Homo sapiens: one gene and its partners. The protein of the gene in region 6 interacts with the protein of the main gene of each other region in a biochemical or structural test. Each region holds a gene or a part of one and is shown on either strand. Other genes may lie near its edges.

Region 1 (3,500 bases), about 14 Mb from region 6:
CAGTCTGGTCTCGAACTCCTGACCTCAGGTGATCCACCCGCCTCTGCCTCCCAAAGTGCTAGGATTACAGGCATGAGCCACCGCACCAGGCTGAAAGTACATTTTTAAGCAGTAAAATCTAATAACACAGTTAACCAGAAAATCTTTCCAACATTCAGCAGTACTAGTATCTTGCATTCTAGGAACCGGAACATTCCTTTACTAACTGGCTTTTCCATTAAAGCTGCTGATGCCTAGAGTAATAAAAACACGACTGCACTGGACAGTGTTCTTAAAGTTCACATGACTGGGATGCTTCCCAGAAAATAGCTCCATTATCTTCACATTTTCATCCTATAATAATTTGTAATCCAGGAAGGCAAGGTTTGTATTTTCTTCTAGGCAGAAAATAAGTTAAAGAACCAGACTGTATGGATCCCAGAGCCTGACCCCTTGACCGAGTGTCTGGTCACTTGATATTACAAATCTAGACTTCCTGATAAATGGCCCTGTAGTGACCTTGTTACTGGGATCCCTAGATGCTGGTTTCCTGCCTGGTTTCTCTGCATCCAAGTCCCTGTCTGCATCTACTGTCCATCCAATGCCCATCCTCTTCTGCCTGGGTCCCCAATGCCACCTGCTTCCCTGCCTTTGCCAAAGGTCAGTGACTTAGTCATCATCTCAGAACTAGGGCTGGAACAGGGATGTGGGCGTTGGTGCAGGAAGAAGAGGTGGAAGTGTGAGCACTAGAGGAAAGAAGATAAGGTCTAGGGTGACTCCCGCCTCCTGCCCTTCTTTGCTTACACACCCTGGCTCTTAAATTCTATTAGAAATTGGTCAGTGGGAAGCACAGCTGGCTTGTTCATCTCCCTGTCCATCTATCATAAACTCTGTCCCTGCTCCTCCATCCAGCCAGGGTATGTGAGTGACGTTCCAGACTCTGCCAGTCCTTGTGGCAGACAGGTACCATAGTGAGGTGAGAGCTGACAAAAGGCCGGTGTGGCAGGCACAAAGCTGGGAGTGGCATCCTACTGGAGGTGGGACCACAGAGGTGTGGGGACCAAAGCCACAAACATCAGGCCTGCAGGCCATGCAGAGGTTAGTTTTGTCTTTATCCAGGTAGAAGATTCCTAGTGCTAGAGGGTTTTCCATGCTGGCTCACCCTGCACTGATCTCAACCTCGAAGTCACTCTTAAATCCGGACGTGACCACACGTCCGGATTTACCTAGGGCAGTCCCGGCTTAGACCCGTCAGTCATGTGCAATTATTAATAGGACCCCTTTTTATTCTCAAATTGTTCTGGTTGGGATGATAAATTCTAGTTGCACTGTTCTTGGGGGCCTAGGCCTGTGAAGTCAGTGCTGCAGTTAGAGAAGTCTACCCATGATTAGCAGGGACGCCCAGCCTGATGAGTCTCACCCCTCATCAAACATTCCATTTGCCTCTCCAGTATCCCTGCCAAACCATCATCTGGCTTCTGCTTGTATATCTGCAAGGACAGCAGGCTCACTATCTTCTCAGGAAGCCTCTCTTTTTTGGGGAAAGCTTTGTTATAAAAATAGCAGGATTCAAACCTGTATACAGTATGACTGCAACTAAATAACAACATCCAGGCCGGGTGGGGTGGCTCATGCCTATAATCCCAGCACTTTGGGAGGCCGAGGTAGGTGGATCACTTGAGGTCAGGAGTTCTAGACCAGCCTGGCCAACATGGCAAAACCTCATCTCTATTAAAAATACAAAAAATTAGCTGGGCGTGGTCGTGGACACCTGTAATCTCAGTTACTTGGGAGGTTGAGGCAGGAGAATCACTTGAACCCAGGAGGCAGAGGTTGCAGTGAGCCGAGATCGCGCCACTGCACTCTAGCCTGGGTGACAGAGCAAGACTCCATCTCAAAAAAAACAAAACAAAAACAAAACAAAAAAAACCCCACATCACTCAGCAGGGAAAGGCGTGGGGCTGGAAGAAAGCAGAAAACCTGCTGACTTTTCCCCTTGCACCTCCTTCCATCTCTCCCTCTCCTCATTCAACAAATATTTACTGAGTGCATTTGATGGTCCAGGGACTGTGCTTGGCACTGGGGACAAAATGGTGAGTTAAAACAGACTCAATGTGAGGGGCATTCTACAAAATAATTGGCTTGTACTTTCCAAAAACGTCAAGGTCTGGCTGGGCATGGTGGCTCACGCCTGTAATCCCAGCACTTTGGGAGGCCGAGGTGGGCGGATCACCTGAGGTCGGGAGTTGGAGACCAGCCTGACCAACACGGAGAAATCCCGTCTCTACTAAAAATACAAAAAATTAGCCGGGCGTGGTGGCACATGCCTGTAATCCCAGCTACTCAGGAGGCTGAGGCAGGAGAATTGCTTGAACCCAGGAGTCGGATGCTGCAGTGAGCTGAGACTGAGCCACTGCACTCCAGCCTGGGCGACAGAGCGAGACTCCATCTTGGAACAACAACAACAAAAAAAGTCAAGGTCCTGAAGGACCAAGAACAATTGGGGAACTGTCTTAGTTTAAAGGAAACTAACGAGACATGACAACCGTACGCAACCCATTTATAAGAGTTTTTTTTTTTTTGCTATAAAAAAGGACATCACTAAGACAACTGGCAAAACCTAACATCTAGGCCGGGCGCAGTGGCTCGGGCCTGTATCCCAGTACTTTGGGAGGCTGAGACAGGCAGATCACTTGAGGTCAGGAGTTCGAGACCAGCATCCAACATGGTGAAACCCTGTCACCACAAAAAATACAAACATTAGCCGGGCATGGTGGCACACGCCTGGAATCCCAGCTACTTGGGAGGCTGAGACAGGATAATTGCTTGAATCCAGGAGGCGGAGGTTGCAGTGAACTGAGATCACACCACTGCACTCCAGCCTGGGTGGCAGAGTGAGGGACACTCTCTCTCAAAAAAAAAAAAAAAAGTATATAAAACTTGAGGTTTATAGATTAAACAATGTTGTATCACTATTAATTTATTGATTCTAAAATTTGTATTGTAGTTACGGAATATCATCGCTTTTAGGAAATATATGTAGGGGGAAAGGAGGCATTGATAAATAATCCTCAAATGGTTCAGGATAGATATATATGTACACAGGGATAAAATAAAAAGAATAAAATGGTAATGTTTGGGGAATCTGGGTGAAGAATTTATGGGACTTCTTTGATTTATTCTTACAACCTTCCTATGGGTCTGAATTGTATCAAAATAAAACATTAAAAGAAAAAAAAATAAAACTTAGAAAAAGTTTTTTTAAAAAAGAGACCCTGCCTTCACACAGCTTACAGTGTAGCCGGGAGACAGGTACTAATACAAATAATTACATTAATTAACTGCAAAATTGCCACTAGGAAAAGTGCTATAATGGAGAGAGATCTGGTGGCATGAACATTTATAGCAACAATTTAACTCAAGTCAGGAAGGTGAGCAAAGGCTCTGCAATCATGGAGCTGAGACCCACAGGATGAAGTAATCAGTGGGGAGGGGGAGAAGGTCCCAGGCTCTTGCAGTCC
Region 2 (3,981 bases), on a different chromosome or scaffold from region 6:
AAAAATAAGTTTTAGTAACCATCACAATACATTCATACAATGGAAAATTACACAGCAATGAAAAAGAACTGTTTCTACAAGCAACAACATGGATGAGTCTCAAGACATGATCCGAATGAAAGAATCTGGTCACAAAACAGTACACACTATGATTCCATTTATATGAAGTATTAGTTCAAAACAAATCTATAGTGACAGAGGTGGTGAGGGAGGTTACATCTGTAAAAGAGTAGTGCTAGGAGAAAGCACAGGGAGCATTCTAGGGTACTGGGAATGTTCTCCATCCTGATGTGAGTTGTGATCATACAGGTACTCATTCTGTAATATTTCATGGACTGAATGAACCTTTGATTTGTCAAACCTCAATAAAAAAGTAATCCCACACAAAAAAAGCTTTCGGTGACCTTAAAGACATCAGTTTTGGGAAAGCATAAGTGAAGAAGCCAAACCATATTAGAAATGTATACAAGGTGAGGAAGCTAAGACACTGAATACAAACTCATTTTTCAAGAAGGTTGTTGGGGAAGCAAAGAAGAGATAACAAAGTAGTTTGGGTAGGTTACACAATTCAGGGAAATTATGTTGTTTTGTTTTTATTTGTGATATAAAACAAAGAGAGTAACAAGGGTCTAAGGCAAACAAAAGAGGATGAAATCAAGGACATAAGTAGAGAAATTAGCCTCGGAGAGGAGGATGAGTACTTTTCTCTGAGACTGAAGCTAAGGATGAGAAAACACAAAAATCATAAAATAAAGAGGAGGGAAAAATCAAGTAATCTTGAACTCTACCATGAAATACGCAGTAAGGTCAACTGGACAGGTAAACTGAGACAGGAAAGGACCTGGACTTGAAGTTCATTGTACAAGTTTTGACTAGATGATACTGCAGAGAATGTAAAAGATAAGTATTAGGCACATGGGGGAGTAAATTGCAGCAAGAGGACAATGCTCAGCAGCTAGAAGCGGGGCAGAGATGGTCAATGGTGCAGTCTCCTCAGGGCTCAGTGGGGAATAAGAGGTGGAAGAACAAAAGGGGGGAAAAGTCCAAGGGCTACCTAGCATGGTATATAATTTTTAAACTGTCTAAAGGGCCGGGCACACTGGCTCATGCCTGTAATCCCGATTACCTGAGGTCAGAGTTCCAGACCAGCCTGGCCAACATGGTGAAACCCTGTCTCTGCTAAAAATACAAAAAAATTAGCTGGACATGGTGGTAGGCACCTGTAATCCCAGCTAGCCGGGAGGCTGAGGCAGGAGAATCGCTGAACCCAGGAGGTGGAGGTTGCAGTGAGCCGAAATAATGCCACTGCACTCTCCCCTGGGCGACAGAGCGAGACTTCGTCTCAAAAAAAAAAAAAAATGTCTAAGGAAAATGCTAATTTATCTGAGAGAAAAGAGGTAAGAGACCTATAAGAAGTCTTAAAACATTCATGGATGAAGTCAGTAGGATCCCGAATAGAGCTGAACAAAAGGAAAGCTGTCACTAGAGTTCATTACTACAGAACATTTTTCTGTAAATCCAACAAGACCAAGGATTACTTATTCTCCTTTCACTAAACTTATTACCGCTACTAGTGGCAGCTTCTCCTGCCTGATAAAACTGACCTTTATCCCCTACTCATAAATACACCTACTCTTGACTAATAAATTACATAAACATATCCTGTTCATTCAGAAACTCCATGAATATTTGTATGCTGCTGTGTTTTCCCAGTAATGTGTTTTCAGTGGAAAACTAGCAGGCAAACCATATATCTACGAATTCTGTTCACAAAATTGGGCTTAACACTGCTCACATGCAGGTGTTTCACAAGTGCTTTCTTGTGAAATAGATGGTTGGTAAAGAGAGCCTTAACAATGATTGTGAACACACTGGTACAAAAGTATAATGATGGCCAAATCAGAGAATGCTTGGGAGTGTCATCCGTTTTTACAATTTTAAGGACAACCTCTAGAAAACAGGATAACACTACATCAAATTGACTTACATCTTACTCTATTTACTCCTATGGATAACTCCTCAACGCCTCTTTAGTAAGCCTACTCGTTGCAGCTCACACACTCAGCCCACATTCCAGCGTCCTTTCGCCCCATCCAGAACCCCTGACTATCTCTTGCACCAATTTTTCATTCTTCTACACCCCCATTTCCAATACAACCCCAGGCCACCACTTCCATTTCTCCACTCCCCATTTCTCGGCCTCCCCAGACCTCCCACTCCTCCCCGCGAACTACTCAGACCCCACCCCTCCAAAGCTCCAGCCCGGGTCCTCCCGCCGAAGATCCCCTCCCCCACGGCTTCCATTCAGGTTCACCCTCCCGGATCCCAACCCGCCCTACCTGCTCCTTGCCCTCGGGCCCCGCGGGGCCCGTCCGCTCCTCCAGCCGCTGCCTCCCGGGCGGCGCTCGCCGGCGCGGCGGCAAAGACTGAGACAGCTCCGCTGCCCGCTGAACTCCATCCTCCCGGCGGTCGGGCGGCGGCGGCTGCGGTCGGTCGCGGCAGCGGCTCCGCTTCATATCTGCAGCTGGGGCCCGCGGGCGTCAGCGCCGCGACTGTCCCGGCTCCGCACTGCCCCGGGCCGCAGCGCAGCCGCGCCAACCACCACCCGCGGCCACCATGGCCGGACGGGCTCCCTAAGCCACCGACCCCAGCCCGCGGCGCCTTCGAGCCTTCTGGGGCCTCCGGCGCCGCGACCTCCTCTGCGCTCCTCACGGAAGAGACAGCATCGCTGACGCCTCGCCTTCTCCCACCCAGCACACGTTGGGCAGGCCACCCGCCGCCGGCTCAGCCGCCTGCCTACAGCCAGCCTTCGGCCGGCCCCGCCCCTCACGCGCGCGCACCGGGAGCCCGCCCGCCACCTCCGGCCGCGCGCCGCCTCCCGCGCACGCGCCAGCGAACGGTCGCAAAGGACCCGCCCGTGGCCCTGGCGCGCAGTCGGAGGACCAGAAGCGAGCGGGGCTCTCGGCGCGCCGTCAGCGGCTGCGGACTCCCATTGAATCTTTCATTCATCCATTCATGAAACTGCTGGGCCAAGCTCAGTGCTGGGGACCCAAAAATGAGTTCGAGTCGATCGGTGTCCTCAAAGAACTAGGGAGAGAGGGGCCGGGAGCAGGAAGGAGACAGAATAACACAACTAATGAATAGAAGGCTAATGCATGCTTTTTTATTTAGTGCCTGCCAACTCTCACCTAATTCTCACATCACACTTAGGAGGCAAATCTGCGCATTCTCATATTACAGATAAAGAGACTGAGGCGAAGTGAAATGCACCAGGTCACCCAGCAAATCAGTGATCAAACTAGACGGAATTCTGGCTCTTCTGTCCCTTTCCACCGTGTTTGCTCTTTCCGGACAGTAAGACAGTGTGGAAACGCCTATAAAAGTGGAAAAAGTGATGGATTCCTTCTGGGAGGAGGAGAGGACAAAAAAGGCATACAATGAAGTCATCGTGTAGAGCCCAGCCCAGTCTGCTGTGGCCTGGGTAGCCTGACCTGCTGCCTGCAGTGACTCATCTGCTCAGCAACATGTGGTGGTAGCTCAGCTCTGGCCTCCCTCTGGCTTCAGCTGGTCTGCCACATGTTGTGTTTTTCCTCTTTTGACCTAGAAGCCTTGCTTAAAGCCTTCACCCATTTGTCCTGGGCCTCTTCCCTGACCCCTTTCTGAGTAATAAAAATAGCCAACACTATGGAGTGCCCACTGCATACCACACACTGTGCATTCAATTCAGACATACACAAACAAGAAGTAAGTTGTATTTCCATTTTACAGTTGAGGAAATAGGCTCAAATTACATAATATGCTCAACATCACACAGCTTATAAGTCCAGAGCCAGGACTCAAACCCAGGTCTGCCAGATCCGGACAGAAAGACAGTGCGGAAACACCTATAAAAGTGGAAAAAGTGATGGATTCCTTCTGGGAGGCCGGGAGGATGCACATAACCAATGTGCTCTACGGCCTGTCACCAGCCTGCTCCTCTAT
Region 3 (3,500 bases), on a different chromosome or scaffold from region 6:
TAAAAGTACAAAAAAAAAAAAATTAGCCAGGCATGGTGGTGCACACCTGCAGTCCCAGCTACTCGGGAAGCTGAGGCAAGAGAATCCCTTGAACCTGGGAGGTGTAGGTTGCTGTGAGCAGAGATTGCACCACTGCACTCCAGCCTGGCGATAGAGCAAACAAAACAAAACAAAACAAAAACAAACAAAAAAAGAAGACCTCACCCATCCAGTCTTAAGGGTGCCCTGAAGCAATTTCCCAAAACTCAGAGCTTCCCAGGGTGATGACTAAAGAAGCAAAAAAGGCCGCTGCTTGGATGGAAGGACAAAGCCCAGAGCTGACCCCAAGGCGTGGGGAGACCCCTCGGGACTTGGCTCCCCCGGGAAGTGTGAGCCCCCAGGACCTGCTGCCCAGAGGCGGGCACAATAACCGGGTCATACTCACAGTTGCGCCTGCTTCTCTGCTAGTTCTTTGGTTTTCTCCTACAATTACAAAGCGGGAGAAAAAGCAAGTGAGCAAAACAGGCTAACACAGGGACGCGTTCAAATACACGATACCATCGACAGGAAAACAAGCCATGCTGCCCCAGGCATCCTGTGTGACGCTGACTATTTATTCAAGCTGTGCTGGAAAGGACATTTTCCATGTGACTTCAACATCTTCCCATTCCATTACCGACTATGACCTACAAGTTTGCTACAATAGAGTATCTCACAACTCTCTAGCTTACATAACAACCGGCTATTTAAAAAATAGTAGAGGCTGGGCAAGGTGGCTCACACCTGGAATCCCAGCACTTTGGGAGGCTGAGGCAGGCAGATCACTTAAGGTCAGGAATTCGAGACCAGCCTGGACAACATGGTGAAACCCCATCTCTACTAAAAATACAAAAATTAGCCGGGTGTGGTGGCGCATGCCTATAATCCCAGCTATTTGGGAGGCTGAGGCAGGAGAATCCCTTGAACCTGGGAGGCAGAGGTTGCAGTGAGACGAGATCACGCCACCGCACTACAGCCTGGGTGACAGAGCGAGACTCCGTCTCAGCAAAAAAAAAAAAAAAAAAAAAAGAATTATTCTTGCCTTAGTAGTAAGTTATTATCCGGCTGAATGTAACCGTGATGGCTGAGTGCGCGTAGACTAAGCGTGTATATTTGGTAAGGAATGAGGACGGGGCAGCGGCGACACAGTTGCACATTCTCAGGAAACAAACGCGCAAATGATATTCGCATGGGATCTGGACAGCACCCAGCGGAGGCTTCGGATTCCCACAGTGGGTGCAGGGGGAAGAGGTGGACTCAGGCTCGGTCTCATGTCTATCAGCTCAATCTCTGGACCAGGCAATTCACCTCTGGGAGCCTCTGTTTCAGAGCCTGTAGCATAGGGGCAGGGTGAGCCCTGGTGTGCTGCAGGGAGTGGGCCAGCCACACAGCGAGCCCCAGGTGGCTGGGACACAGGCTGGGACCCGGGTCCCTCAGCAAGTGACTTACGGCCCCCTGGCTTCAGTTTCCCTGGCTGTGACATGGGGTGTGGCATCTACATCGTCAGGGTGGTTGTGATAAAGAAATTAAACAGCGTTTGGTTTGCAAGTAAGTGCCTGGCGCAGAGGAGACTCGGGAAATGACAATGATCGTGCGAAAACCCATGACTTCTGGCCAGCAGGTAACTCTCGGTCACAGTGGCCACGATGTGGACACACACTACAGGGACATCACCTGGCCCTGTGTCCATGACTGCACGGAGGGGACACGGGCACGCTGCAGTGGCACTCCCATCAAATCCCAAGCCGGGAACCCGAGGGGAAGAGGCACGGACACCCAGATTACAACACCCACGGTGCACAGAGACGGCTCCCACTGACATCTGGACAGGGAAGCCTGAGCTGGCTTTTACTTTTTAAAAGTCTCAGACATTTAAAATGTGGATTTCGATATGAGAAAGTGATAAGGTTTCTACACAGTCAAGTGGTTCCCCCTTCCCCTGTCTGCCGGGGATAAGCGGGGCCCAGACTAGCGAGGATCTGAGGGTCTCTGAACGAACTTGAACAACTACGAGTTGTCCTTCGGGTCCCTGGGAGCCAAGTCACTGTGGGGTGGGGCCCAGCGGGGGGCCATGACTGTGTGATGCCTGTTCCAGCACTCATGGGCCCAGGGCGGTCCTGCTCACTGGCGGCCACACTGGATTCCTGGGGACATTGGCAATGCCTGCAGCCATGGGTGTATTGCGTGTGTGTGTGTGGCGGGGCGGCAGAGGGTGACCGGCATCTAGGGGTGGAGGCCGGGGATGCTGCTGAATCCTCTGCAATGCACAGGCCAGCCTCACAGCAAGGAGCTCTCCTGCCACAGTGTCCACAGGGCCGGGGATGAGAGAGGCTGGCCTGGAGGAAAGTTCGTCAACGCACAAAAGGTGACGGGCCCTGCACCTCCAAACTCGGATCAGGGATGGCTCCAGCGGGTATGTGCTCAACCGGCCCCTGGCAGCAAGCACAGGGCGCCGGCACACACAGGGGCTTCTGGGGCTCTTGGGCAGGGGCCTGTGAGAGCTATCAATGTCACCTCGGCCTCGTGGTGCCCAGGCTCAGGGGCAGCTCACTCCTGGCACGTGACAGTGCTGGGCCCAGCTGGACCCCAGGGAGGGTACAAGCCCAGAGCTCAGGAGGTGACCTAGGACCCCACGCAAACCCCACCCTCAGGGGCAAAGGGCTGCAGCTGACACCTTGGGTTCTGGGGCTGCTTCTGGTGGCCTGTGGGGCTGGGGGGCAGCGACAGGCAGGGAAAGGCCGCCCTGCGCTCAGCAGCACAGCACCGTGGGGGTCAGATAGAGGCGCTCCCGCCTCCCAGCCGGGGCCAGCTCCGGGCCCCCTCTTCCCCCAGACCGGCACAGGACCCAGACCGCCCACCCCAGCACACTGACCCAGACAGTCTCGCGGATCAGCCTGGCTATCTTGAGCAGGAGCTGCCCGAATGTGCCCGGCTGGAAGTGGGTGGCCGAGTGCTGGATGCAGAGGCACAGGAGGAAGGCGGGGGTCAGCTTGTGGTCGTCGCCCCCCGGCTCGATCAACGTCATGATCCTCTGCAGCAGCGTGTCCTCCAGGTGGGGCTCAAACTCCAGGAGCAGCTGCTGGCGCCGGGGCAGGGCGGCCTGAGTAGGGGAGGCGGCTCCCCGGGCCCCGAGCGCGGCCCCGCACAGCCGGCAGCTCTGCGGCACAGCCCGGAGGCGCGCCAAGGCCCGGGCGGGCAGGGGCTGGGCCTGCGCGGGGTCCTTGAATAGCAGCAGGTAGTAGAGCCCCAGGGAGAGCAGGTCCCCGTGGTGCAGCACCACGGTCCTGTGCCCCACCTCGGAGAAGTTGACGGAGATGTGCGCCCCGGGGATGGGCTCCAGGACCAGCCTCCCCGCGGCCTGGCCGCTGTCCGGGAGCGGTTGCCGGCGGATGGTGCAGTGTAGAGGCAGGATGTCGGGGGCTGAGAGGCTGATGCTGGGCTTGCTGGAGGGGGTCCGCTGGCCCACCGTGTGCCGGTCCCGG
Region 4 (3,500 bases), on a different chromosome or scaffold from region 6:
TCATGTCTGAAACCCTCTGGCACCAGCCCAGTGCTCTGAACAGAGGTGTTCAATTAATATTAAAGAAAACAATTTTTTAAAACAAATCTTCCTTCATGGCCAGGCACGGTAGCTCATGCCTGTAATCTCAGCACTTTGGGAGGCTGAAGCGGGTGGATCACCTGAGGTCAGGCATTTGAGACCAGCCTGGCCAATATGGCGAAACCCTGTCTCTACTGAAAATACAAAAATTAGCCAGGCGTGGTGGCGCACACCTGTAGTCCCAGCTACTTGGGAGGCTGAGGCAGGAGGATTGCTTGAACCTGGGAGGCGGAGGCTGCAGTGAGCCAAGATTGCACCTCTGCACTCCAGCCTGGGTGACAGAGTGAAACTCCATCTCAAAAACAAAAACAAAAACAAAACATTCCTTCATTATCCTAACCATCCCTTGTCTCTCCTCTCCTCTACCCCTCACAACTTTGTAGGAATTACAGAAGGCTTTGAATGTGTGTGTGTTTGAGTCGCTGAGATATGCTGTCACCTGACTAAACTCCTAAAGGTAGGAATCTTTCCAAGATTCCTCACTCTGTCCACGTGGTACCTGGCACAGGGCTGACACTTCCTAGAGTGGCTACTTCTACTTGAAGGGAACTGAGAAGGGCTACATTTGGCCCAAGAGCTAGCTAGACAGCCACATGAACAGTCTCTTGCCCTTCCTTCTGGAATTCTGAGTCTCATCTGCCCCTTATCGACCATGTGCAAGCCACTGCCCTCTTCCAAGCCTCAGTTTCCTCAACTAAAAAAAAAAAAAAAAAAACCTGGCCGGGCGAGGTAGCTCACGCCTATTAATTCCAGCACTTTTAGAGGCTGAGGCAGGCGGATCACCTGAGGTCCGGAGTTCAAGACCAGCCTGGCCAACATGGTGAAACCCTGTCTCTACTAAAAATACAAAAATTAGCCGGGCATGGTGGTGTGTGCCGGTAGTCCCAGCTACTTGGGAGGCTGAGGCAGGAGAATCACTTGAACCCAGAAGGCAGAGGTTGCAGTGAGCCCAGATTGTGCCACTGCACTCCAGCCTGGGCAACGAAGTGAGGCTCCATCTAAAACAAAAAAACCCTGCCAGTCCTTCTCTTAAGACCAATGAAACACGAACGTGGCAAAGATGTGCAGATGCGTTATAAACCATAAAACCCTACACCCATGTTGATTTTAGTCAAGCTAGTCATCCCTAGGAGGAGATGCCCCAGTTCCGAGGGAAGGCAGAGCTGCTAGGCCTGCTGCCTCGGGCATGGCCTTGGTGCCAGAGCTCACCTCACAGAGAACGATCCCAAAGGAGAAGATATCCACCGTCTCATCATAGCTCTTTCCTTGGGGAACACAGGAGAGCACACTGTTAAGTTTACATCCCTTACCTGCTCTGCACTGGGTCTAGGGTCAATCTAAGCCACAGCTAAGAACTAGGGCTAGAACAGGTTCTGTAGGGACACCCCACAGGCTGTCCTGCGCAGACACCACCTGAAAATAGTCCTTCCTCAGCTGTAGGTGAACTGCCTTGGAGAGCCCTTATAACATAACACTGCCTAGGATGAAACTGCACGTTAAAGTGGAAAAGAACCAGACTAGGGTTCATCTAGCCTCTGCCATTAGGCAGCTGTATGCTCCTAGGCAATTCACTGAACTTCTCTGGGCCTCAGACTCCAAAATGGATTGTATTCAGACCATTTCTGAGGCCTCACAACCCTGATTTCAAGAATCCCAACCAGCATCTCTGGTTGGTTTGAGCATTATCCACCAGAGGGCACCACACTTCAGTTCTCACCATGGAGAGAGAAGGCTAAAGCTGGGACAATAGCCTGAGCTCTTAGCGATCCCTGAGGCACAAATGCCACAGTCAGAACTCACCTTATCCCCCATGATGGGACACTGATCAGTTCCCAGCCCCCTGAGCTCAGGAGCTAAATCGTGAGGCCCCACCTGGCAAGGGAAAAATATCCTCAGCTCTGGGTATCCGGTCCTACGCTTCACAGGCCTCCCCTGGAATTCCCAGGGCTCTGATGCAAGGGCAGCATCTGTCCTCCCTCTGCGGGTGTCCCCTCCAGGGCTTCAGGACTCACCGTTCAGCATCTCAGGGGCCATCCAGTAGGGGTTTCCCACCACCGTGTAGCGCTTCTTGCGGTCGTTCTTGCGCAAGGTGCGTTTCTTGGTGGTGGCCTTCTCCATGGGGGCCCTTTTCCTCTCTTCCACTATGAGCCGTGACAGCCCAAAGTCTGCCACCACCACAGTCTTGTCCTGGTAGGATAAAAGACAGGTCAGGACTTCATGGGGATGTTCTCAAACCTGGCCCTGGGGAGGAAGCATAGGCAAGAGAAGCCACTGAGAAGGGGAGAAAAGGTGTATAGCAAGGGAGAATCAGAGCAGAAAGCTCTATCAAATAGACACACTCAGGCCAGGCACGGTGGCTTCCACCTGTAATCCCAGAACTTTGGGAGGCCAAGGCGGGTGAATCACCTGAGGTCAGGAGTTCAAGACCAGCCTGGCCAACATGGCAAAACCCCGTCTCTACTAAAAATACAAAAAAAAAAAAAAAAAAATTAGCTGGGCGTGGTGGCACACGCCTGTAGTCCTAGCTACTTGGGAGGCTGAAGCAGAAGAATCACTAGAACCCGGGAGGTAGAGGCTGCAGTAAGCCAAGATTGCACCACTGCACTCCAGCCTGGGAAACAGAATGAGACTCCATCTAAAAAACAAAACAAAACAAAACAAAAAAACAGACACACTTGGCATTTGTGTTTCTGAGGGTCTGGTATCTGTGCACAGCAGACTCCCAGCCCACAGTGGGTTCATGGCAGAGCCACTGGAGCCCTGGAGGTGAGGCTCAGGGACTTGGAGAGTGGAACTCAGAGGTGGGACAGGGGGTTGCTTTTGTTTTTCCCTGTCCTGTCTTATTCCTAAAATGATTTCAGGCAGTGGCTAGAACCAGGATAAGACAGAAAAAGGCAAGGTGGAGGCAGTAGATGGGGAGACTTGGGGGAGACAAGCTCTTTGAATAGCTACAGGGCAGTCATGTGGGAAAGGAATGAAGATTGCGTGGTGTGGGTCTAGAGGGCAGAGCCAGGGCCAGCCGGTAGACACCCAGGAAGCCAGATAGCAAGTCAGTAAGACAAACAACATTGTAACCACCACAGCTGAGGGGCAGTGGGAGGAATGCTGGTCTCAAACTGGTCCCTGTAAATTTACTAGCTCGGTGGCCTCAGGCTGAGGCTTCAGGTGCCACCACTGTAAAATGGGGTCAGCAATGAACTGTTTTACAAGACTACTATGGGGCAAAAGCAGGTAAAATGACAGGGTTTTCTACATATAGTCAACAAACTTCTGAAGTCCCTTCTAATCAAATTATTTCAAAGGTTGCTAATGAGAGAAGGTGAAATTATGTCTGTGTGTGTCTCGGAGCTCCCAGAGGACAGAGAAGGGCATTGGAAGAAGCAGGAAGGGAAAGATAGGAGCTCCTAGGCAACACCTCT
Region 5 (3,368 bases), on a different chromosome or scaffold from region 6:
CTGAGCAGCTCTTTGGTAAATGGGAATGAGTGACGGTCAGGGGAGGTAACAGTGCCCTGGCCAGGCCTCCTCCCTGATAGAGCCAGAGGACAGAGAAAGGGCTGAAAGGAAGTCACTCCTAAGGGCTCCGTCGTACTTGAGTGTTGTGGCCTGGAGCATCTGCTGAGGGAGGTTGGCAGGGAGCGGGGTGGCGGGGGTGGCTGAAGGCCCAGGGGCAAGAGGCTGGGGTGCTGCAGCCTGGGGGGTGTGGCTGGCCAGAGGCGCTGAATGCCAGACCAAAGGACCTGGGCTACTGTGAGAGGCTGGGGGCAAAGGTCAGAGTTCCAGGAACCTCCTCCTCCTTCTGCTTCCAGGTGACCCTGCACAAGGACCCCATGCGGCATGACTTTGGTTTCAGCGTCTCAGATGGCCTCCTGGAAAAAGGTGTCTATGTCCACACTGTGCGCCCTGATGGGCCAGCCCACCGTGGAGGCCTCCAGCCCTTCGACAGGGTCCTGCAGGTAATGCTGGGGCAGGGGCTCCATAGTGGGGGTGGCATTGTTTCCTAGCCTGAGGGTGGGGAAAGAGCCTGCATCTATCGCCTGTGAAGAGGGCAGGACAATGCAAGTCTGAGTCAGGTTAGCCAAAGTTGCATTGCGGGCCCCAGCACCCTCAGCCTCAGAGGCTGAGCACACACAGACCTTTCTTCTTACACCCCATGCCCATTGTGGGCTGGTGGGGGCCTTCTTGTCCCGGGCTGATGGAGCATCCGCCCATCTTGGAATTGACCCTCTGAGACACGTGGCCTCCTCAGACTCCACAGCAGAGGAGACAGACTGGAAAGTCACACGTGGATTTTTTCCGCCTTCACCCAGAAGCAACACTCATCACCTTGCTTCACAGCCGATGGACCAAACCCCTCATGTGACCTTCCTAACTAACTGTGAGGGAGCCTGGGAAGCGTGGGACATCGTGTACTGGGCACTCCGTGCCGCCCCTTCTCATGCCCTGGCTATTTTTGCTCCCTCAGTGTGTTTTTTGCCATATTTATATGAAATTTACTCAATTCATGTTTTCTCTAAATTGATGGCACTTTTTCAATTTACATTTGACTTTGAAAGGAAACTTTTTGTCTCCATTAGGAGTGAAAATCTTGCACCCCTTGCTTTGAAATAGAAAGTGGGTGTAAAATGCAAATAAAATAGAAAGAAGACAATGTCACATCACACAGTTCTAGGCAGGAGGCTCTCTGAGTGTGTGGTCTGCTCTTTCATGTGAGAAAGGGAGAAAAGCAAGAGTTAGAGGGGTATGAAAGGTATACCTGCCCCTTCCTAGAACTTTCTCTTTGATGAAACCTAACAGAAGGACTGAGAGAGAGTTAGAGGAAGAATGTTCCTCTGTGTGTGGTGCTGGTGATGTCAGGGCTTGCGTCAAGGCTGGGGCAGGACCCATCTTTAGGACATCACATGCCTCTTGCTCCCTTCAGCGCAGCAGGGCTGACATCTCGGTTCTGTTCCCTTGCTTGTGCCCCATGCAGGTCAACCACGTCCGTACACGGGACTTCGACTGCTGCCTGGCGGTGCCACTCCTGGCCGAGGCGGGTGATGTCTTGGAGCTGATCATCAGCCGCAAGCCGCACACGGCACACAGCAGCCGGGCCCCCCGATCGCCAGGCCCCAGCAGTCCCCGGATGCTCTGAAGTCAGCATGTGGGCCGAACTCCTAAGGGGCCACCCAGGCAGATCCTGGCTCCCAGACACGTAGCTGGGCTGGAGAAGCGGCCACCCACTCATTCATCTGTTGGTCTGGCAGACTCTGAGCCTGGGATGATGCTTGGTCTCTGTTCCCCAGGTCTGTGGTGACTGGGGTGCCAGGCAGGGAGGTCCTGCCCTAGTTGGAGTGACAGCTGGGGTCTCTCGCCAAGTTGGGTCTCCAAGATGCCCAGAGGAGCCTCCCTTAAGAAGGGTTGGCACAGGCTGCTCAGCCGAGAGGAGAGAGGCCTGGGGGCTGTCCCAGGTCTCTGTGGGGCCTCCTTGGAGAGGTCGAAGATGTAGGGAGCACTTCCTCCCAGCAAAGCCATGGAGCTGGAATGAGCTGCAAGGAGGAGTGAGTTCTCGGTCACAGGAGGTGAGCAGGCAGGAGCTGGATACCCCAGCGCAGTCATGCATTGGGGTATGAGGCATTCCCATGATGCGTGCACACGCGCTTGGGGGTTGGCTTCCTGATGGGGAGCCACTTCATCTAGAGACTCGGCCACCAGGAAGGATGCTGCTTCGGATGGGAGCCCAGCTCCTTCGCTTCTCCAGAATAGGGGTTTGGGGCTTGCTAGTCCTGAGATTCTGAGATTCCCAGAATCTGGTCCCCACTTATGAGACTCTTAAGTTGGGGCGTCTGGGATCCCAGGAAGTGCTGGCCCTTTGATTCTGAAAGTGGGTGATTCTTTGATTTCAGCATCTCAGTCTGAAGCTTCTGGGACTTGAGACTGTGGTTCTGGGCCCATTGGGCAGGCTCTATGGGCCTTGGGCTCTCAGCCCTCCTGCTTCTTCTGTAGGCCGTGTGGCCACTGACCCATCTGCACGTCCGCTCAGCCCAAGCCCCTCCATGTGGGAGGGGTCATTTTGGGGCAAAAGACCCTGGAGCTTCCATTCACCTGCCATCCAGTGAAAATTGAAAAGCGATGGACGCAGGACCTGTGAGGCGGTAGCGCTCCTCTTTACAGCCAGATCAGTGGAGGAAGAGGAGAAAGAGGGAGGGAGATGGGAGAGAAATGGGCCAGAGAAAAAGATGGGACACTCTTGCCCAGTGGAGGGTGTCCAAAGTGCTTATTCAAAGAAGTCTATTCCCACTTGAAATCTGGAAGCACCAGCATCCCTTAAAATCATTGTCCTCAGTGTCCACAAATCAGAGACCCTCTTCATTTTGAGAAGGGTGTGGGCCTCCCCTGGTGGTCTAGTGAGTGGTGCCTGGGATGGAGTGGGCGGGCAGGTGTAGCCAGGGCTGGGGATGTGCTTTGCCTGGCCCAGTTCTCACAGGGGTCTCAGGAAAACGGGGCACCCACTCCCACCTCCATCTGTCTCCAACCTGGGGTCCCTGGAGGCCAGAAAAGTGCTCTTCCATTTGAGGGAACAGATGAGGAGTCAAGAGGTCTGTTCTTTTCACCCTGGGTCTGTTACCTGTTTGCTGTGTGACCCTGTCTGGGTTGGACCCCCAGCCCCTCTGGACGATCACGGGTGGACAGTCTGAGCAGACACAGGCCTCCTGGTCAGGGCCGGAACCATCTCTGCCGACCCACCAAGGCCCCCTTGGGGACCTGCCCACGCTGTCTCCTGGAGGCCTGCCTCCCTTACCCCTCCCCTCCACTTCGCTGGGCTCTGCCCCTTGGTGCCCTCC
Region 6 (4,225 bases):
AGGGGGAGACAGAGCAGGTGGGGTTCCCCACCTGCCACCCAAACAGGCCACTTTTAACAATTTTACTATTAACTATTCATGGGCTTCCATCTAAAATTTCCCTTGAAATTGGGGGTTCCATGCCAAAACCTGGGGTGGGGAACCGCTCACTGCATTCTCTTCCAATCCTTATACCAGCGCTCGGAGTAAGCCAGTCTGTCCTCGTTTTGTAGAGACAGAGAAGAGACGTGACTTTGCCTAGGCAAGTAGCACAGTGTACTGTGAAATCCCAGCACTGGCTCTGGGGCTTCCTGGCTCTGGGACTGGCCATCTCTGGGCCTCGTTTACCTCCTCTGTAAACTAGGGGTATCAGAGCTGACTTCATAGGCTGTTGGGAGAATTAAATTAGACCTCGTTAATAATAGCACAGTGCCTGCCATGGAGTGGCTGATCTTACTCATTAACAATTCTTTACTTGAGGCAGACACCCACTGTCCAAAGGATCCTGACATTGGGTTGAATGTGTGTGGCTTTCTGCTCCATCTCTGCTTCTGTCCTGCAGGCCCCCACCCCCTTCTGGCTGGAGGAGGGGCCGGACTTGGGGCCTGGACTCACTGCCCCTTTGTCTGCTGGGCTCCCTGGGTGTTTGGGGAAGGGAGGGTGGATATGAGAGCCCAACGTGCCCCATTGTACTCCAAGATGCTTGGTCCTCTCCATGGCAACCAGCCGGGCCTTTGTGGCAAATTGGGCCCAGGATGGAGAGGCCCAGCTCAGGGCCTGGCAGGGGTGGGGAGAAAAGCCAGGGGCCCATGGCCTCCAGAAGCCCCCATCCCCTCCAGGATGGAAATTGGTTTTCAAGTGACAAAATCCCCAATCCCTCCCCTCCCGGCAGGCAGTCTAGGGTACCAGCATGCAGAAATGGTCATGCCTGCAGTGTACCCCACCAACTTTTAGGGATCCCCAGGGATGGCGCTCCCAGCACAGAAATGGCAGAGGAAAGGCTGCCCCTGGGCAACCCAGCAGGCCTGATGGGTTGAGTGTACACACCAGTGTCCAGACCCCCCACAGCCTCCATCCACTCTGTGCCTCCAGGTCCCCTGTGAGTGCACACTGAGTGTGAATGCACACATGTCCACATGTGCGTGTTGGGGTGTGCACATTGGTGTGCAGGCACATGCCATGTGTGTAGGTAGGTGCATGTGCTGGTAGATCCACATGTGTCTGTAGCACCTGTCCCTGTGGTGCTGTGTGCCCTTGGGCATGCCACACAGGTGTGCGGAGTGTGGGTGTGTGAGCATCACAGGGCAGGGGACAGAGCACCGATCCACAGACCGGGATCTCACGTGCTTTGTATGCAGAGAACAGAGAGGAGCAGCCACCCCGCCCCCCGCCACCATGCCCCACCCCTCTATGGAGCCCAAGTCGCCTGCCAGCAGAGCCCAGCTCATAAGTCCCCGTCCCTCTCTGAGCCTTGGTTTCCTTCACTGCAAAATGGGGTCCTCATCCTCCCTAGGGCCCCATAGAGAGGATAGGAAATGAAAGCTTTGTGAGTGCGGGAAACATGAGGGTCCCCAGGTGGGACTGGGAGACACTTGGCCCCCACACCCTACAGCCTGTGGAGCTCTGGGGCAGGGAGGGCTCCCCCAGCCTCAGGAGAGCCCAGGCCCTCCTTGGCTCCCTCCCCAGCCTGTGGTGGTGGGGGCAGGGGACTTCCCAGGCCCGGCCCCTGTAACTATAGTAACTAACACCAAGCGTTCCCTTGGACCCCCCAGGAGGAATTCCAGGCTCCGAGAGCTTGGACAAAAGCAAAAAGGGCTTGGCAAATGTGGTCTGGCTTCAGGGAGCCCTTTCAGATTGGCCTTGGAATGCTGGGGAGGGGGCAGCAGGGGACACACACATGTTCCCAAATCCCCAGCCACCCCACAGGGACCCAGAGCATCCCCAGCAGCCCTCAGCACAGGCAGGGCTACCGCACAAATGGAGGGGTGCGGGCAGGCACCCAGCTCCCTGAGTCTCCCTCACGCTTCTCCACTCAGTCCCGAGTTGGGGTCGGCTGTGCACATCCCACACCCCTCATGTTGAGAGCAAAGACCTAGTTCAACCCTGGACAACCTACACCCCACAGCGTGTGCTAGGACACAGCTCACCACACCCAACTCCTCGGACACAACTCACGGCTCACCCCAGACAGCTCATCCACCTCCCAACTCTAACACACCCACAACCTGTGCCCCACAACCCAGCATGCGACACAGAACAAGCTCTGGGGTGAGGCTTATGCCACCTGCAACTCCCCAAACTCAGCCCCTAGAAACCCAGAAGTCCCCCAGCCCTTTACAGGATGCAACACAGCACCTCCCAAAACACGCACCCCATCCCTCACCCGCATCAGCTCCCCCAAATCATGCCCAGCCCCCGATCCCCCAACCCCGAAACTTACAACCCCCCTCAACATGAAACAGCCCCGAGCCTCAGAACACACTCACCTCCGTGGAGCCCCACAGAGTCTGGGGGCCACAGCCGCGCACTCCTGTGCACCCCACAGCTCAGGCCTGCACCCACGCGGACCAGCCCACCCACCACCCCAGCAGCCAAGGCTTGGGGTATCTGTCTTGGGGGACAGACCCTCTCCCAGGCCCCTCCAGACATGGGCCCCAACTCACCAGCCAGGAGGGAAAGGGCAGGGGCCCAGAGCAGCAGTAGCAGGACAGAGGCCAGGGCCTGGGGGTCCGGGGTCCCAGGCCTGGCCAGCGCCATGGCAGCCCGCTCTGCGCTCTGCTCGGCTGCTGTGAGAACGGGAGGGCGGCCTGGCTGGCTCCGCACCCCCCTCGTCCCTCCAACCAGCACTAATGCTGTGGACAGAGGCCCAGCCCCTCCCTCCCCTCCCCGCCACCGCCTCCTCCTCCCACCCAGGCCTCCTGGGCTGCTCCACCTCGTGGACGTCCCTAGACATCAGCCCCAAGTCCTCAAGCCCCCTAGCCTGTGGGGCTGACCTGGTCTTGGCACCCACTGGTTTCTCCCTCCTGACCCTCTGCCCCACTCTCCTCCCACCTCTCAGGTCAGCCTCCTTGGAGAAATTTCTGTCCTTGGAGAGGGGGCTGTTCAGGACTCTCGTCTCACCAGGTGATGCCAGCTACTCCCAAGTCCTTAGTTATCCCCTCTCCTGGATCCCCCTCCCCACCTCTCCAGCCCGGGCCTCTCTCCCAAGCCCAGGCCTTCGAGTCCAGTCGCCTCCCAGACCCTGTCTCTGCTGGGAAGCTGCAGCCCCTCCCACCCAGCTCGTCCCCCCACCTGCTGCTCCCCAGTGCTCCCATCGGAGCCAAGGCACCTCCCATCGGGCAGCCCAACGCCCCCTCCCCACTCCCCCCTCCCCACACTCGGTCAGCCCCTAGCTCCTGGCCATGCCACCTTCTCAGTGTCTCCTGCTGTCCCCACCCCGTCCCACCCGACCACACACAGCTCCTCCCACCATCGGCCTCAGGATCAGCTCCCTGCAGGGCACCTCACCCCTGCACCACGGTGGTCCCTGCCTCCCTTTACCCTCTCCACCCTTCACCAGCCAAACTGAACCTTTCCCAGCTTTCTTCCACTTGACCTTGATCTCTGGCTCTGCTGTTTGCAACTCCAGCGACCTCACTGCAATCCAAAGCAGCCCATTCTACTGAAAGGCAGCTCTAACCAAGCAAGCATTGCTCTCCCCTGCCAGGAAGTCCTTCTTGTTGTCTAACCTTATAGTCTCCTGCTGCACTCGATGTTTGCTTGCTCTCCAGCTGGCCTCTTGTTGGGGTGGACAGGAGGAGCTCTTCAGGGGGACCTGGTTCAGGAAGCCAGGTCATCTCAGAGACACTACAACATAGAACAACATTCCTTTCTTCTACCACCCTCAGCCCCAGTGGGGAGAGAATCCTCTTGCTGAAGGGACTTTCCTGAAATGAGCCACCGGCCCCTGCCAATACATGCCTGTTTGTCCCTATTCAGTAACCGTGGATACAGCCCACGCAGGCCCTGGGCTCTGGGATGTGTCCCTGACACGGGAGGACACAGCCTGGAAAGACAGCAGGAGCCATTGAGGGAGGTCCAGATGAGCTAGAGGGATGGGCAAGGGTCCCCTGCAGTGCAGGGGAGGGAGCAGTGGGCACCACACAGGCCCTGGCCGACCCTCTAGCCCGGGGCAAGTGCCACAGCCCTGGGTCCCCAGGGACCAAAGGAGGGAACCCAAAAAGGCCTGGGTAGACTCCTTATCCAC
Region 7 (2,465 bases), on a different chromosome or scaffold from region 6:
GGCCGGGTGCAGTGGCTCACACCTGTAATCCCAGCACTTTGGGAGGCCGAGGCTGGAGTTCCAGACCAGCCTGACCAACATGGAGAAACCCTGTCTGTACTAAAAATACAAAATCAGCCAGGCATGGTGGTGCACGCCTGTAATCCTAGCTACTCAGGAGGCTGAGACAGGAGAATCGTTTGAACCTGGGAGGCGGAGGTTGTGGTGAGCCGAGATCACGCCATCGCACTCCAGCCTGGGCAACAAAAGCGAAACTCCATCTCAAAAAAAAAAAAAAAAAAGCCTGGGTGCAGTGGCTCATGCCTGTAATCCCAGCACTTTGGGAGGCCAAGGCGGGTGGATTACAAGGTCAGGAGTTCAAGACCAGCCTGACCAATGGTGAAACCCCGTCTCTACTAAAAATACAAAAATTAGCCGGGCATGGTGGCAGGTGCCTGTAATCCCAACTACTCAGGAGGCTGAGGCAGGAGAATCGCTTGAACCTGGGAGGTGGAGGTTGCAGTGAGCCAAGATTGCGCCATTGCACTCCAGCCTAGGCGACAGAGCAAGACTGCGTCTCAAAAAAAAAAAAAAAAAAAAAATGCTGCAAGTTACTCAGTGCCACGTGGGTCTCAGCTACCCCAGGTCTGAGTCCCAGAAACCAGTCTGACCAGGGAAGCCGTGTTTGTTGACGTCCTGGTAGAAAACAGGCTCCCAGTGTGTGTCTGCTCTGTGCTGGCATCCCCTCCGGAGACCCTTCCCAGGCCTGCCCCCCATGTCCGACGCACCTGGGCCCCCTGATGAGCCGAGATTCTCCCACGATCCCTCGGGCTCTGGGACTCATCTGCCTGCACGGGCTCCGAGGACCGGGCCAGGGCTGGAGCCGGGGGCTCATCATCCACATCCGTGTAGGGCCCCCCCTCGCCGTCTGTGTAGCCCTCGCCATCCGTGTACGCGCCGCCCTCGCCGTCCGTCTCGTAGTCGCTGTTAACGCGGCTGTCGCAGCTGAGGTCAGCGGAGCTGTCGGCCAGGCCGTGGTGAGGGAGGTCTAGGTTGTCCTCCAAGGAGCCATCCAGCTGTGGGGTGGGTGTGGATGCTGCGGCTGGCCCTGGCCAGGACCCCAGCTGCCACCCACGACATCCCCCCACCTTCAAACTCTGGTCCCAAATCAAGGCGAGGAGCCTGGAGCCTGGAGCCTCAGTGGAGGCTTCTCTGTTGACTCCAGGATGGGTTGTATCCATTGACCCTTCACCTGAGAGGCTCAGCCCCCAAATCCAAGCTGAGCCCCAAACCTTGACTCCAGCCCCAAGAGAAGACTCCATTCTCTCTCTCTTTTTTATGAGAAGGAGTCTCTGTTGCCAGGCTGGAGTGCTGTGGCGCAATCTCTGCTCACTGCAACCTCTGCCTCCCGGGTTCAAGTGATTCTCCTGCCTCAGCCTCCTGAGTAGCTGGGACCATGGGCGTGAGCTCCCGTGCCCCACTGACTCCATTCTCAAAACAGCTCCTCCAGGCTGGGCGCGGTGGCTCAGGCCTGTAATCCCAGCACTTTGGGAAGCTGAGGCAGGTGGATCGCCTGAGGTCAGGAGTTTGAGCCCAGCCTGGCCAACATGGTGAAACCTCGTCTCTGCTAAAAATACAAAAATTAGCTGGGCCTGGTAGCGCTCGCCTGTAGTCCCAGCTACTCGGGAGGCTGAGGCAGGAGAATCACTTGAACCCGGGAGGCGGAGGTTGCAGCAAGCTGAGATCACACCACTGTACTCCAGCCTGGGTGACATGAGACTCCATCTCAAATCAAACAACAAAAAACAGCTCCTCCAATCTCATCTCACCCAAGTTCCAGTCCAACACCCTTGTCTCAGGTCCCATCTTGACTCTGGCCACAGTCCTGATCCCTGACCAAGCCCTAACTCCCGACAGAGGCCCCAAACCCCAGCTGGGCCTGCACAGCGTCTGTGGGGCCTCCCTGCCCGACCCACCCACACCGCGGCAGTACCTGATCTTCCGCCGTCCAGATGGGCCGCGTCTGCTGCTCTCGAATGATGGCCTTGAGCTCCTGGTACCAGGTGTCACTCGTGCCATTCAGAGGGATGGTGGCTGCAGGGAGGGGACGTCAGTGTGTGCAGGAGACTCAGGCTGGGGCCCACCCGCCTACCCTGGGACACCCACCCCCCAACCTGTGAAGAGGTGGCTGCTGTGTTTTCGCAGCTTCTGGGCTTGTGCGTAGAGGCGACGGGTGCTGCGGCGGGAGGCAGGCGCCAGCCACTGGCGCAGTGCCTTGAGGGCCGGCCGGCTCTCGGGGATGAAGAAGACCACAATGGGGTAGTACTGCACATAGTTGAGGCGCTCGATGGCGGAGGGGGTCACATCCAGGAGCGCATGCTTGTCCTGGGCCAGGCCGGCGGACGTTGGGGTGAGGGGGATTGCAGCAGGGTAAACAGAGAGAGAAAGATAGAAAGATGAAGAGTCTGAGGTCAGAGTGGACCCCA

Evidence for each region.
Region 1: the proteins of CRB2 (region 6) and PTPN3 interact in a test that uses a peptide from one of them, tested with the Homo sapiens proteins (one large-scale study listed by IntAct).
Region 2: the proteins of CRB2 (region 6) and MAST2 interact in a test that uses a peptide from one of them, tested with the Homo sapiens proteins (one large-scale study listed by IntAct).
Region 3: the proteins of CRB2 (region 6) and RADIL interact in a test that uses a peptide from one of them, tested with the Homo sapiens proteins (one large-scale study listed by IntAct).
Region 4: the proteins of CRB2 (region 6) and LIMK2 interact in a test that uses a peptide from one of them, tested with the Homo sapiens proteins (one large-scale study listed by IntAct).
Region 5: the proteins of CRB2 (region 6) and GRIP2 interact in a test that uses a peptide from one of them, tested with the Homo sapiens proteins (one large-scale study listed by IntAct).
Region 7: the proteins of CRB2 (region 6) and TJP3 interact in a test that uses a peptide from one of them, tested with the Homo sapiens proteins (one large-scale study listed by IntAct).

The regions. Positions count from the first base shown.
Region 1 is NC_000009.12:109,488,308-109,491,807, forward strand, and holds part of PTPN3 (tyrosine-protein phosphatase non-receptor type 3), read right to left. Parts: intron 1-3,500.
Region 2 is NC_000001.11:45,802,431-45,806,411, reverse strand, and holds the start of MAST2 (microtubule-associated serine/threonine-protein kinase 2), read right to left. Parts: upstream 2,801-3,981; 5' UTR 2,517-2,800; coding exon 2,340-2,516; intron 1-2,339. UniProt on the Homo sapiens protein: Appears to link the dystrophin/utrophin network with microtubule filaments via the syntrophins. Phosphorylation of DMD or UTRN may modulate their affinities for associated proteins. Functions in a multi-protein complex in spermatid maturation.
Region 3 is NC_000007.14:4,831,717-4,835,216, forward strand, and holds part of RADIL (ras-associating and dilute domain-containing protein), read right to left. Parts: coding exon 2,891-3,500; intron 463-2,890; coding exon 425-462; intron 1-424. UniProt on the Homo sapiens protein: Downstream effector of Rap required for cell adhesion and migration of neural crest precursors during development.
Region 4 is NC_000022.11:31,271,298-31,274,797, reverse strand, and holds part of LIMK2 (LIM domain kinase 2), read right to left. Parts: intron 2,269-3,500; coding exon 2,094-2,268; intron 1,347-2,093; coding exon 1,291-1,346; intron 1-1,290. UniProt on the Homo sapiens protein: Serine/threonine-protein kinase that plays an essential role in the regulation of actin filament dynamics. Acts downstream of several Rho family GTPase signal transduction pathways.
Region 5 is NC_000003.12:14,491,975-14,495,342, reverse strand, and holds part of GRIP2 (glutamate receptor-interacting protein 2), read left to right. Parts: intron 1-353; coding exon 354-500; intron 501-1,516; coding exon 1,517-1,678; 3' UTR 1,679-3,368.
Region 6 is NC_000009.12:123,354,772-123,358,996, reverse strand, and holds the start of CRB2 (protein crumbs homolog 2 precursor), read right to left. Parts: upstream 2,801-4,225; 5' UTR 2,737-2,800; coding exon 2,643-2,736; intron 1-2,642. UniProt on the Homo sapiens protein: Apical polarity protein that plays a central role during the epithelial-to-mesenchymal transition (EMT) at gastrulation, when newly specified mesodermal cells move inside the embryo.
Region 7 is NC_000019.10:3,746,384-3,748,848, reverse strand, and holds part of TJP3 (tight junction protein ZO-3), read right to left. Parts: intron 2,365-2,465; coding exon 2,154-2,364; intron 2,074-2,153; coding exon 1,973-2,073; intron 1,056-1,972; coding exon 768-1,055; intron 1-767. UniProt on the Homo sapiens protein: TJP1, TJP2, and TJP3 are closely related scaffolding proteins that link tight junction (TJ) transmembrane proteins such as claudins, junctional adhesion molecules, and occludin to the actin cytoskeleton.